Homo sapiens: one gene and its partners. The protein of the gene in region 2 purifies or fractionates together with the protein of the main gene of each other region. This does not show direct contact. Each region holds a gene or a part of one and is shown on either strand. Other genes may lie near its edges.

Region 1 (3,500 bases), on a different chromosome or scaffold from region 2:
TTAAACAAAAACTTACATCCTTAAATGGATCACCACGGGACATCTGTTCTTGAAGTTCTTTCTGGAGCTCCTTACGAGCTCCGATGGTTTGCTGATTCCGAACATATTCTGAAAGCTCTTTCAAGCCTGCCTCAGTAAAATATTTTGTGAAGTGTTCAACACTTTGCTTATTGGCAGGAAAGAGTTCCTAAAAGAAGAATTTATCTGGTTAAACTTTCTTTAAATCAGATTAAGAAAAACACTTTCTTTTCACAGTCTTAAAAATGAGAAATTTCTCTCATTTACATCCTTGGCAAGAATGGGAAGAATGAAAAAAAGTTACCAACCATCAGTCTGTTATCCATGCTGACTTTCCGAAGACTTGCAGCTACTGCATTGATATCTTTTTCATTTATCCATGATTTAAAGAGCTTCACAGCAAAAGCTGCTGAAACTCCTGTAAAAGAAAATAGCTTAATTAACAGAAGTACCTTCCCTGGTTTCAATCACTGTGTCCCCCTATATCCTTCCCTTCATAGTTCAATCACATGGGATTACTGACTTTCCTCACAAACTTAACCCTGAACTTTCCTGGGCCACAGTTTATCACTTCTCCAATCTCCCTAGTCTACCACTTGCAAATTGTATATTCTTGGCCAAGTTACTTAAAGTGTTTTCCAAAGTATAAATTGAGGGCAACAGTCTCTACACTTGACAAGACTGTTGTGAGAATTACAGTAAGGTAACTTAAATACTCACTACTGCAAGCAGTTTTTTAAAAAAAAAAAAGCTTCAAAAAAATTACTGTAGAGAATAATCCGACAATTGGAGCCAAACAGGGAACTGATTTTCCCTTCCAGCTTGACATTTTCCCCAAACGTCATCTTCTCCAAGTCTCCCAATTGGTATTAATCTCTTCTGGGGTTCCCACAGCATTTCTCATTTTATTTTTATTACATATAACAACATTTTGTCTAAATCTGGGTATCTGTTGTATGCCTAAAGAAAGCCATTAAACCTGGATGCCAAAGGTATTCATTAAATGTCTAGTGAATTAGACTGAACTTATTAAATTTAAGGCTGGTTAATAAACGAAGACTTTCACAGAAGTCACATCTATGAACAGTAAACCATGCTCTTATCCACCCCACTCTGAGTCAACTGAAGACCATCCTTTAAGGCTGATTACCTTCTTTAACCAAATTTTCATTATAAAGGCTATTAAGAATGGATGCATTAAGTGTTCCATTAGCCAGAAGAACACCAGTCAACATAGCTAGCTTGTTCCTCTCCGACTCTGAAAAACCCTTCAAGAACAGCAGCAGCTGTAAAAAGTAAAACAATTAAGGGTTAAAACAGCAACTGCATTACAATAAGAGAAGCAGTAAAGCATGTTATACTGGCTACCTGTTCAATACGTGGGCTCTGGGATCTAACCATCCAAGTTTACATCTAAGTTACAATACTCATTAGCTGAATGATCTCGGGCAAGTTACTTAACCTCTGCACCTCACATGTAAAATGTGGATAATAAAACTTGCCTCACAGGGTTTTTATAAACATTGAGTGAATTAGTATCATTAGAACAGTGCCTGGTGCTTGATAAACATATCAAGTTTTCTGGGCATCTATATGCAATATTGGGCCAGGCGTGTTGGCTCACACCTATAACCCCAGCACTTTGGGAGGCCGAGGGCAGATCACTTGAGGCCAGGAGTTCAAGGCCAGCCTAGCCAACATGGTGAAACCCTGTCTCTACTAAAAACAGAAAATTAGCTGGGCATGGTGGCACATGCCTGTAATCCCAGCTACTCGGGAGGCTGAGGCACGAGAATCGCTTGAACCCGGGAGGCAAAGGCTGCAGTGAGCTGAGACTGAGCCACTGCACCCCCAGCCTGGGACACAGAGTGAGGCTCTGTCTCAAAAAACAACCCAAACAAACAAGCAAAATTACTCCAAATCTGTGGCGGAATTAGGATTTAACATTCCTCTTTCTAACCCTATTTTTTTCTTTTCCACAAAGTACATTATTACTCATACCTTTTTTACTTCATCTTCAAAACCTTTCTCCAGGTATTTGTAGCGCCTGATTAACTTGTTAAAAACCTATGAAGAACATTAAATGAATTCAGTAACTTCATATATTTCTAGAATAGCAAAGTAGTAAACCTTTCACTCGATGTAAGTTTATGAGCTGCTTAAACCAGCTTGAGAAGAATTCCTAGTGACACATAAGAATGTCCAGGTTAGATGTACTTTAATTCTTTGCTTACAGTAACACAAACATAACTACGTATGAAACTTTCCAATGAGATCTTGATTAACAAGCTAATCAGCTCACAACTCATTTAACTTTAAAAATAAATGTATGCAGATAAACTAGAGAAATCACAATACGAAACTGACTTTTCCAGCTTGACATTTTTCTTAAAAATTGAGTAATTTCAGGACAAATAGGAACAGAAGAGTTAATTTCATTTTTCCCTATTTTGTTCGCCTTAACACACCTTAAGTTTCTAATTCATCCCGTTGCACCAAGAACAGTATCCCTAAAATTTAAAATCAAATTCCTTCAACTTTCTAACCACAACTCTTAAAAGTAGAATATTCCTCAAATATACCACATGGATAGTAGCCAACTGAAAACAATTATGTAAAGTTTCATTTACCTGAGCAAATGCTTGCATGGTCTCTAGATCTTCTTGGGCTGCAAACACGCAGACATCTGTACGCATCATGTCATCTGCCAGTGTACCACCTGGGGCTAAAGTTGGATAAAACCAAAATACAACAAAACCAAAAAAATCACTCCATTTTAACAAGTTTGCCAAATAGTTCATATTCTAGACTCTCCATAATCTCCATATATTATACCTTTCTAAATTATTAAGCCCACAAACCACAGACACTTACCCAGCATTCCACCAGCCACCAGAATGTCAAAGAGTGTTTCTGCATATCGACGGTAATCAAGTTTTGCTCCAGAAGCATCAAGAAACTTAGCTACTGCTTCCAAATCAGTACCGGTTTCAGTTAAGCCTTGAATAATACAGTCTTGAAACTGAGTAGGGTCAAACCTCTCTTTTTCATCTGGGGGGACAAGGGACCCAAAACATTTAGTTTTAAAAGATTTACCAAAATGCCACAAAACTATCACCTTATGAAGATGCAATTGTTAAATAAGTTAGATTAAATTCACATCCTTTGCATGTTTCCCCTCTGCAAGTGTAAGACAAGATGGCCCACTCACAAGAATTGTGCAACTTTTCAAATAATTTCACAAGTGATCTAAATGTGCTAGTGTCTTGTGTTCCTACTGCCATAAGCCAATTTCTACTGGGAACGCCCTCCTACTGCCTCTTGGCTTTTCCAAAATTTAGGCCATCCTCTAACAGGTACATTTTATTCCTTTGGGTTTTGTCCAGACACTGGAGCTCTTGATCCTTTTCCTTAAATGTCCATAATATTAAACAAACAAAAAAATTGAACCAATCCTTTGGCATTTATGAAGGTGAGCTTTA
Region 2 (3,500 bases):
GTAGAGTCGTTCTCCAGCCACTAATTCTAAAGCTGTGGTTGCAGAAGTGTCTTTCACACTAATCAGAGAAGCCACAAGTCCTTTCACACAATTTCTATTCCAGTTCTTCTCTGGATCCCTGAAATACAAAAGTTGACAAAAATTAATCTTAGATAATAAAGTAGAAAAAGTTATACTTTACTCATCAGGAGCTCTTTTGGACAACACATTAAAGTGAAATGAAAGTAGAATCAGCAAAATGGTTTTAACAAACCAAAAATTTTAAAATGTCCCAAATGACTAGCCAGCTGTTGTTTTTAAATCACAATAGATCTTTCAGTATGTTTCAATGTAGTAAGAACAACTCTGATGTTCTAATCCCTATAATACATATGATTACTGTAAATATTCCATAAAAAACCCACATAGCAAAACAAATTATAAGATGTAAATGTGGATATTTAACATTAATGATACAGTAACTCTGAAGACATTTTGAACTGAGATTAAATTTCCCTCATTTTAAGATTAGTGGCATCATTAGCCATTAAATTTCACAAGAATTTCCCTGCCAACATTTAAAACATTTCAACAAATGTTTAAAGGAAAAATACCAATGAAAGAAAAGCAGCTTACAACAAGTTTCATACAAAAATCTTGGTTTCGACAAAATTTTCACACTGCTTCCAGCTTAAATAAAAATGTCTTGATTATTACTATGTTAAAATTCAAGGCTTAAGTCTCTTACTTGTATGCAAATCGAAGATTGGGAAATCTGGCTAATAGAGCTTCATATGTTTCTTTCAATCTACCAATATCACGAGACAGCTGCCTGCGCTTTTCCAAAAGGCTTTCCTCTTTATTTTCTGAAGGATAAATCATAATAAATTAAAACCAAGTTTTAAAAGCTCACTCTACTGTTTTAAGGAAAATATTAGCAACCACTATTTCCAAAGCATGCAAAAAATACAAATTTCTGTAAGTATTAAAAAAGCATGCTGAACCTTCCTATTTCTATCCACTGTCAAACAGACATTATTTCCAACGGCAAATAACACAATTTTCATTCCAAAAAATAACATACAAACTGAATGCCTAATGTAGAAATACACAAATGACATTTTTGAGCTTTCAAATGATTGAAGCAGGAAATTCTCAATACTGAGTTCTCAAAAATTCAAGAGTTGTTTTATAATTAGGTATTTTTTGACGATATTTACAACACTTCTTATACTAATGCTTGTTAATAGGCTAAGAAATGTTTCCTACTTGCTTGCGTTCTTTATTTAAATTAGCTTTTTATCAAAAATCACTACCTCCTCATGATCTGATTATCATGTTTTTAAAGGCAAACCTTCATAATTTAGCTTTTTCATTTCAGCTTCAAGTTTTTCTTTAAGTCTTTTTACAGCTTCTAGAGCTTCTTGATCCTTCCTGTAGCCACTATCCATCTTCTTAACTTCAGCTTGTTTATTCTTTAATTCCTGTTGAGCATGCTTCAACTTCATCTGAGCCTGTGGCAGAAAAATGCAACAGACCATAGGATGTATGAGGCAGACAGTGCTAGTAATTAAATGGCCGAAGATTCAGATTGGTTTTACTAAGAGACCTTAACCTTCAAAGTTTAATTGTTTGGTCTCTTGGATTAGTATTTCAACAAATTAGTCATTTCCCAGTATTTTCTCCTCAAAAAACTACTCAAAGTATAAACTAATATATGATTAATATGTAAAAGAATTTGAAATTTAAGTCCGTATTTTTAATAAAATATGACATATTCAAATTGAAGGATTATATCGAATAACTGTCAGTAGCTGGTAATTAAAAAAAGAACGCTAGAAATCACAACTCTCGTTCTTTTCCTTTCCGCTTAGTTGTTCATATTTGTATGTGTATATATTTGTGAGTGCTATCTAATAACAGTAAAGAAACTGAATTGAGCAATAAGACGTAAGATTATACAGGAAAAGAAGCTAAACTGACAGAGAAACTTAAATGCTGAGTCTGATAATTAAATGCTAGAACTATTTAAATTACATGTGTCAGGCCTTCAAGAATTTATACACTTGAACACTGCTTCTTAAAACTATGAACTAGTATTCTAAAACCTAGATGGGGTTTTAGATGGGGGTATCCTCCAAAACTGTATAATGATGTATTTTTCCCAGTTCCCTTATAAAATAATAGACAAACTGAGAGTAGAGTACTTTAAAGCTTTTCTACTATTGAGAGTTCTTATAAATTTGTGACTATCATCTGTCATGCCTGAATGAAAAAGTTGCAAATATATAAAGAGAAAAACCTGAGGATTAACGCATAATCACACACATTTGTGTACATGTTTTAAAATCTGTGTCTTCCATTAAAAACAAAACAATGATGTGCCTGTGTACATGTATTTTTTCTGCTAGCAAAATTCTTATGTTCATAGGACTGTAAGTTGCACTACTATGTAAAATCTGAGAAACATTATAATAGACTGACAAGACTTTTAAGATTATGAAATCAGAGTAGGGAGAGCAGACTAGAATGTGGCTACATGTGAGGTAGAGATACTTCCTAAAAAAATGTAAAGTTTGAGAAACAAGGTTTTAAGAACTAGGTATGGCAGGCAAAGCAATGGGGAGGACAATCCTGTTTTCCTGTTAAAGCTTAAGACTTCAACATTATGTTATCAATAAAAAATAAAAATAGCCAAAAAGAGACAAGAATAAATGCATTAATCTCGAAAATTCCACACAATGCTGCAAACAGAACAAAGCATTTATTGCACTTACATACCGAATTAAGATAATTTATGTAGTACAGCATCTTCACAAATTAACATCACCAATATTTAGCAATCAACATATTTGAATTTCGCTGCATTAGGCATTAGAGTTGCAGAATAAAGTAAACAAACAAGTTCCTTGAGACTGATTATTTTCAACATTATGTAACAATTGCCAAAGCATAACATGAAAAGAAACTTCTTGGAAAAAAAAGCAATCACATAGTGCTAATGTCTCTATTTACCTGTTTGGCTTCTGTCTGAGCTTTACTTATATCATTTTTACAGGCCATCATTTGACCAGCAAGAGTTGCTTCTGCTCCATCTTCATTACTGGACAGGCCAGCGGAAACAGCATTGAAGTGCTGCTGTGCAGCTGCCAGAGCTTCAGCATCTTTATTACTTGCTTCTTGAAGGGCATGCAGTCCATCTGTTATCTTTTTAACCTCTTTTTCCTTTGCTGCTAAAGTTTTTGAGTCCTTTAGGAAGAGTTTCAAATGGAAAAATATTATATTTCAGGAAAAACACCCACTTTCTTATACGCATACCCTTATGTAATAAAATTCCATAGCAATTTGGAGTGAGCATAATAAAATAATTTAACCATCATAACTTTATAAATACTGAATTATCATTTTGAAATTCACTCTCAGTTTTTAGAATAAATATAACTCTTATACTACTGGTTCATTCCATGTTATAAATTAAATCCATGAGACATTGGGCTAAATAATAATTGCAGATTTAAACA
Region 3 (3,500 bases), on a different chromosome or scaffold from region 2:
AACCTGCTACTGTTGTTAGAGCTAGGAAAATCCTTTTCCTGGAATGTTAGTGGCTTAAGGAACCATGATTATAGTGTTGTAGTCTTTAAAATGTGTTTGCTTTGAGATTTTCCCCTTAAATGGTGGGTATTTTCCTAATGAGAAACTGCCTTTGATTCTTAAAGGAGAAAGTTCTGATTTTTCATTCCTTTCTGAATTGAGACATTTCTTCCCCAAGAGGGAGGGGAATTCTGGGTACTGTGGTTCATGCCTGTAATCCCAGCACTTTGGGAGGCTGAGGTGGGTGGATCACTCGAGGTCAGGAGTTCGAGACCATCCTGGCCAACGTGATGAAACCTCGTATGTACTTAAAAAACAAAACAACACAAAAAACACAAAATTAGCCAGGCGTGGTGGCACATGCCTGTAATCGCAGTTACTGGGGAGGCTGAGGCAGGAGACTCGCTCGAACCCTGGGAGGTGGAGGTTGCAGTGAGCCAAGATCACGCCACTGCACTCTATCCTGGGTGACAGAGTGAGATCTTGTCTAAAAAAAAAAAAAAGCGGCCAGGAGTGGTGGCTAACGCCTGTAATTCCAGCACTTTCAGAGGCTGACGGGGGCAGAGCATGAGGTCAGGAGATCGAGACCATCCTGGCCAACATGGTGAAACCGTGTCTCTACTAAAATACAAAAAGTTGGCGGGGCATGGTGGTGTGCACCTGTAATCCCAGCTACTAGGGAGGCTGAGGCAGGGGAGTCGCTCGAACCTGGAGGCAGAGATTGCAGTGAGCCGAGATGAGGCCACTGCACTCCAGCCTGGCGATGGAATGGACTCTGTCTCAAAAAAAAAAAGAGGGAGGGGAAGAAAGGGGGTACCCAGGTCTGCAGGGCAGGTGGCCAGACTGACTGGGTTCACTGGGGCCTTCCTGAGCTGGGAGAGAATGGGCTGGGAACAAGACCATGAGGCCCACTAGAGTGAGTATTTTAGTAAATGCCAATGGCTGTTGCCTCCTGAACGCCCTCCCCACTTCCCTTGGGCCTGTTTGTCTGAGGCCCGATTTGTCCCCTAGGTACCTCATGGCAGGGCCAGGTTCCAGCAGTGAGGAGGATGAGGCCTCTCACAGCGGTGGCAGCGGAGATGAAGCCCCCAAGCTTCCTCAGAAGGTCTGATGCCCCCTGTCCAGTGGGGGAGGGTGTAGTGGGAGGATGACATGAGTCCGCTGTGGCACCCCAAACTTCCCACTCTTGCCTCTTGCAGGTACCCCCCCAACACACCCACACTGTTCCTGCCCTCCTCACCCACCCACTCTCCCTCCTTAGCAACCCCAGACCAAAACCAAGCCCACTCAGGCAGCTGGACCCAGCTCACCCCAGAAGCCCCCAACCCCTGAAGAGACCAAAGCAGCCTCACCAGTGCTCCAGGAAGATATAGACATTGAGGGGGTACAGTCAGGTCAGACTCTGAGGGAGGAGGGGCTGGGGCCTGGGCTCCTGAGTCTGAGGGAGGAGGGCCTGCGGCCTGGGCTCCTGAGTCTGAGGGAGGAGGGGCTGGGGCCTGGACTCCTGAGTCTGAGGGAAGAGAGCCTGGGGACCTGGACTCCTGGGTCTGAGGGATGAGGGGCTGGGGGCCTGGACTCCTGGGTCTGAGGGAGGAGGGGCTGGGGGCCTGGGCTTCTGGGTCTGAGGGAGGAGGGGCTGGGGGCTGGACTCCTGTGTCTGAGGGAGGAAGGGCTGAGTCCTGGACTCCTGGGTCTGAGGGAGGAGGGGCTGGGGCCTGGACTCCTGGATCAGAGGGAGGAGGGGCTGGGGGCCCAGACGACTGGATCTGGAGGGCAGTTGAGGCTGGGGGCATGAGATGCCTGGGTCTGTGCCATACTGGGAGAGCTGCCAGTCTTCCCAGGAGACAAGGCAGCCTTGCATTGACTGAGCTTCTACTTGCAGAAGGACAGGACAATGGGGCGGAAGATTCTGGGGACACAGAGGATGAGCTGAGGAGGTAGGGCTGGGGCTGGGGGTTGGGGTGTCCCTGGCCTTGGGTGTAGGGGAGGCTGCTCTGCATGCTCACTCTCTACTCCTCTTGGCACCCCCAGGGTGGCAGAGCAGAAGGAACACAGACTGCCCCCTGGCCAGGAGGAGAATGGGGAAGACCCGTATGCAGGCTCCACGGATGAGAACACGGACAGTGAGGAACACCAGGAGCCTCCTGATCTGCCAGTCCCTGAGCTCCCAGGTGGGAAATCCCCCCATCCCTCCTGAAGTGGCATTTTCTCTTCTCAGTTCTCAGCTGGGACTTGCCCTGGCCAGCCCTGGGGTCACTGCTGCCCCCGTGTCTTGCCTCCCCTCTCCTTCCTCAACCCACTCCCTGCCTCAGCACCTTCAGGTTCTGCCAGGCTTGTTCCTTTCCTTTCAGCATCCTCTCTGTGACTTGCCTTTTTCTCCCCTCCAGATTTCTTGTTCTGACCACTCCCCTCGCAGCCATGTGCCAGGTGTGACCTCCTTTTTTTCACGTCAGGGGTGAGGGCCCCACCCTCATGCTAGTGCTTCACTTGCTCAGGTGCCGTTCTGTTGGTCTGGGGTGAAGCCGGGCACACCAGGTGACAGGGGCACTGCTCTCTGTCAGGCCCTGGGTGGGTGCACACCAGTGTCTGCTTTAACATCAGCCATCACTCTGGACGTGGATGCTGTCTGCACACATTGTGTGTTTGCATTTCCAGTGTAAAAGAATAAGAACAAAAGGAAATGGGGAAACTCTGCAGGGAGTTGTGGGATGAGGGGCAGGGAGGCAGAGCTTCTTCGAGAATGAAGGGAGCAGAGGAAAGACAGTCACGGGCTGTGCAGAGGTGTGGTTCTGGGGCTTCCAGAAGAGCCGTTTCCACCCAGTTCCTCGTGGGTGATGGGCAGGAAGATGCTTTGATTCTCCCAAGCCCCTAAAGTGGCATCAGCAAATTGATGGCCTAGAGAGTCACCTTAAAATGGAAAGAAGGAGCCACCCCAAAGGTCAGAACAAGAAAGGCACTGGTTGGAAAGGAGAGCAAAGGTGAAGAAGTGGCAGATACTGACGTTTTCAGCCTGGACTAAGCTCATTAAGTGGCTCCAGGCAGGCCAGGCGTGGTGGCTCACCCCGTACTTTGAGAGGCCGAGGTGGGAGGACTGCTTGAGTCCAAGAGTTCAAGACCAGCCTGGGCAACATAGTGAGACCCCCCCCGACCCCCGCCTTTACAAAACATTTTAAAAATTAGCCGAGCGTGGTGGTGTGCTACTCAGTAGTCCTGGCTACTCAGGAGGCTGAGGTGGGAGGATTGCTTGAGCCCAAGAGTTTGAGACCAGCCTGAGCAACATGTCAATACCCCGTCTCTCTACAAAAAGTTTAAAAATTAGTCTGGCTTGGTGGCATGCACCTGTAGTCCCAGCTACTGGGGAGGCTGAGATGGGAGAATCACTTGAGCCCAGGAGGCAGAGGTTGCAGTGAGGCAAGATCACGCCACTGCACTCCAGCCTGGGCGACAGAGTGAGTCCTTGT
Region 4 (2,212 bases), on a different chromosome or scaffold from region 2:
TTCGCTGGGTCTGAGCCCCACCACACCCCTCCGCCTGGCCTCGGGCTCGCGGGGCTGCCAGGCACACCTCCAGCTTCCCAGGGAAGAGGCTCTCGAACTTCTTTTGCAGGCTGAAGGTGAAGGTGAGCCAGCCCATATTGGAGGCTTCACGGCCCTGCCAGAAGTACACGATGCACTGGAAGTCCTCCTCTGGCTGCTTCTCCTCTGCCTCAGCGGTTGCTTCCTCGCCTTCTTTGCCCTCGGCCTTCTCCTCCTTGTCTTCCTTCTTTTCCTCCTCCTCGTACTCCACAGGCACCCAGTACCTGCCGGGTTGGAAGGTTGTGAGCAGGGGCTCGAGCCCCCAGCACCAGGGGAGGGACTTGGGGAAGGGAGTGCTGAGGTGGTACCTGCAGAGGAAGACGTAGCAGTCCTGCGTGTAGAAGTGGCCAAACTCCTCTTCCGGCAGCCGCGCAAACTTCTTGCCCTCCAGCACGAAACCCTCCATGCCGTCTAGGTCTTCGTTCCACTCCTCCATCAGCTGCTCCGCCTGCAGGTGAGAGGGACCCGCCCCGCGGCAGGTCTGAGCGCGCTCTGCGCATAGGCCCCGCCCTCGGCCTGCCCCCCACCCCCCCCCCCGCGCCCCGGTCCCGGCCCTGCCCCCACCTCGGCCAGCGACATGGGCGGCTGCCGCGGCAGGAAAAGCGCAGTGAGGTCAGCCTTCATCTGGTCTTTCTTCTCGGCGTCGCGTTTCACCTTCCCGGAGAGACCCGGGCTCTGCAGCACGGCCTCCGCATTGCGTGTGTAGTCCACCGTCAACACATCGTCCCAATTCTTGAACTTGGCCTTGAACACCTGCCAGGGAGGCCATCAACTAACCATGAGGGGTGCGGCATGATTAGAGTTGGAGGAAGTAGCCCGAGGCTTGAGGCGGGACCCAAGGGAGATCTAGGGCGGGGCTTGGGAGGCGGGGCCTCGGACACGGAGGTAGGAATAGGAGGGGCAGCTTGCAGAGGGGGCGGGGCCTGGGCAGAGTCAGCAAAGAGGAGGTGGGTTTGGGCCCAGCTCTGTAGGGAGGTAGTGAAGCCACAGGGGTCAGGGCATGTCAGGGTGCGAAGGATCCTGGGGAGGGGCCTCCGAAGCTGCAAGCGCACCTGCGCCTCGGTGCCCTCGAGGCTGCGGCTGACCGTGGCATGGCGTGGCCGGTGCAGCATCCCGCACAGCTCCTGACCCAGCTTGAGGGCGGCAGCGCGCACCAGGCGCGGGGACTTGCGGCCGAGCCAGATGAACACGTCGGACCAACAGTCCAGAATGTACACGCAGCGCGTGTCCAGCAGACTCTGCAGCTGCGGACCGGGAGTCTGGAGGTCAAAGCCCAGCCAACGGGGAGGGATCTGGCCCCACGCCCTCCTCCTGCATCTCTTACCAGCCGCATTCTTGGCATCAGCTCCACCTTGGGACGCTGCTTATGTTCCACGGAGAGCTTGTAGTTGATCTGTGGCAGCTCCAGGTAGCCCAAGCCCAGGCCCACCTGGCAGGAAGGATGAGCATGGCAGGGAAGGGATCTGGAGACAGGAACCTCACCCACACAGCCCTCTGCTCTGGAACCAGCCCTGCCCTGCAGCGTGGCTCACTGACTGCTTCTGTTTCCCCCTCCCCTTCAAGGTCTTTTTAGGGATATCCTTTCAGAAGGGCTTTTAAATGGAGTTTTCCCTGCCTGCCCTCTCCAGGCCCTTCATGCCATTTCTAATTAACGTGTCCCTTTCCTGTTCACAAGAATCTAGATAATTGAGCCAAGGTTCCCAGCCCTGGCACTAGGTGCTTCTGTCTCCCCTACGGCCCCACCATCCTGGAAAGACTCCGTGAGGCTACTTCTCAAAAGCAGCCTCCAGACCTTTGCTCATACTGTTCCTTGTCCAGAAGGTGGCACCCTCTCCCCACCAAAGTCGAGATGGAGCCCAAAGCCAACTACATCGGTGTGTAGTCCATTCCCCCAGTCGGTGGGTGAACTTGGGAGGCCAAGGTGGGCCTCAGCAGCAGGGCTCACCTTGTACAGCTTGGGCTGCGGCGGCCAGAAGTCTTCAGGCACGTGCTTCTTGATCTCAGAGGGCTCCCCACCCAGTGCCTCCCAGAACTCTGGGAGCTCCTGGCCCTGCACCAGCAGTGTGATCTCAGCCTTCCCTTTCCGCTCATTCTTGTTAATTTTCTCTGCAAAGAGCCTGAGAGCAGGATGCAA

The links. Proteins that work in one complex are often made in the same cells at the same time.
Region 1: the proteins of SMC2 (region 2) and BZW1 fractionate together in Homo sapiens (co-fractionation; one large-scale study listed by BioGRID). This does not show direct contact.
Region 3: the proteins of SMC2 (region 2) and XRCC1 fractionate together in Homo sapiens (co-fractionation; one large-scale study listed by BioGRID). This does not show direct contact.
Region 4: the proteins of SMC2 (region 2) and FLII fractionate together in Homo sapiens (co-fractionation; one large-scale study listed by BioGRID). This does not show direct contact.

Annotation. Positions count from the first base shown.
Region 1 is NC_000002.12:200,814,910-200,818,409, reverse strand, and holds part of BZW1 (eIF5-mimic protein 2), read right to left. Parts: intron 3,070-3,500; coding exon 2,893-3,069; coding exon of another isoform or gene 2,887-2,892; intron 2,744-2,886; coding exon 2,649-2,743; intron 2,086-2,648; coding exon 2,020-2,085; intron 1,305-2,019; coding exon 1,169-1,304; intron 437-1,168; coding exon 327-436; intron 188-326; coding exon 17-187; intron 1-16. UniProt on the Homo sapiens protein: Translation initiation regulator which represses repeat-associated non-AUG (RAN) initiated translation probably by acting as a competitive inhibitor of eukaryotic translation initiation factor 5 (EIF5) function.
Region 2 is NC_000009.12:104,111,309-104,114,808, reverse strand, and holds part of SMC2 (structural maintenance of chromosomes protein 2), read right to left. Parts: intron 3,229-3,500; coding exon 2,995-3,228; intron 1,494-2,994; coding exon 1,334-1,493; intron 846-1,333; coding exon 728-845; intron 119-727; coding exon 1-118. UniProt on the Homo sapiens protein: Central component of the condensin complex, a complex required for conversion of interphase chromatin into mitotic-like condense chromosomes.
Region 3 is NC_000019.10:43,544,528-43,548,027, reverse strand, and holds part of XRCC1 (DNA repair protein XRCC1), read left to right. Parts: intron 1-1,050; coding exon 1,051-1,144; intron 1,145-1,300; coding exon 1,301-1,433; intron 1,434-1,921; coding exon 1,922-1,976; intron 1,977-2,070; coding exon 2,071-2,210; intron 2,211-3,500. UniProt on the Homo sapiens protein: Scaffold protein involved in DNA single-strand break repair by mediating the assembly of DNA break repair protein complexes. Negatively regulates ADP-ribosyltransferase activity of PARP1 during base-excision repair in order to prevent excessive PARP1 activity.
Region 4 is NC_000017.11:18,246,527-18,248,738, forward strand, and holds part of FLII (protein flightless-1 homolog), read right to left. Parts: intron 2,196-2,212; coding exon 2,024-2,195; intron 1,508-2,023; coding exon 1,403-1,507; intron 1,323-1,402; coding exon 1,131-1,322; intron 832-1,130; coding exon 643-831; intron 527-642; coding exon 387-526; intron 303-386; coding exon 68-302; intron 1-67. UniProt on the Homo sapiens protein: Is a regulator of actin polymerization, required for proper myofibril organization and regulation of the length of sarcomeric thin filaments. It also plays a role in the assembly of cardiomyocyte cell adhesion complexes.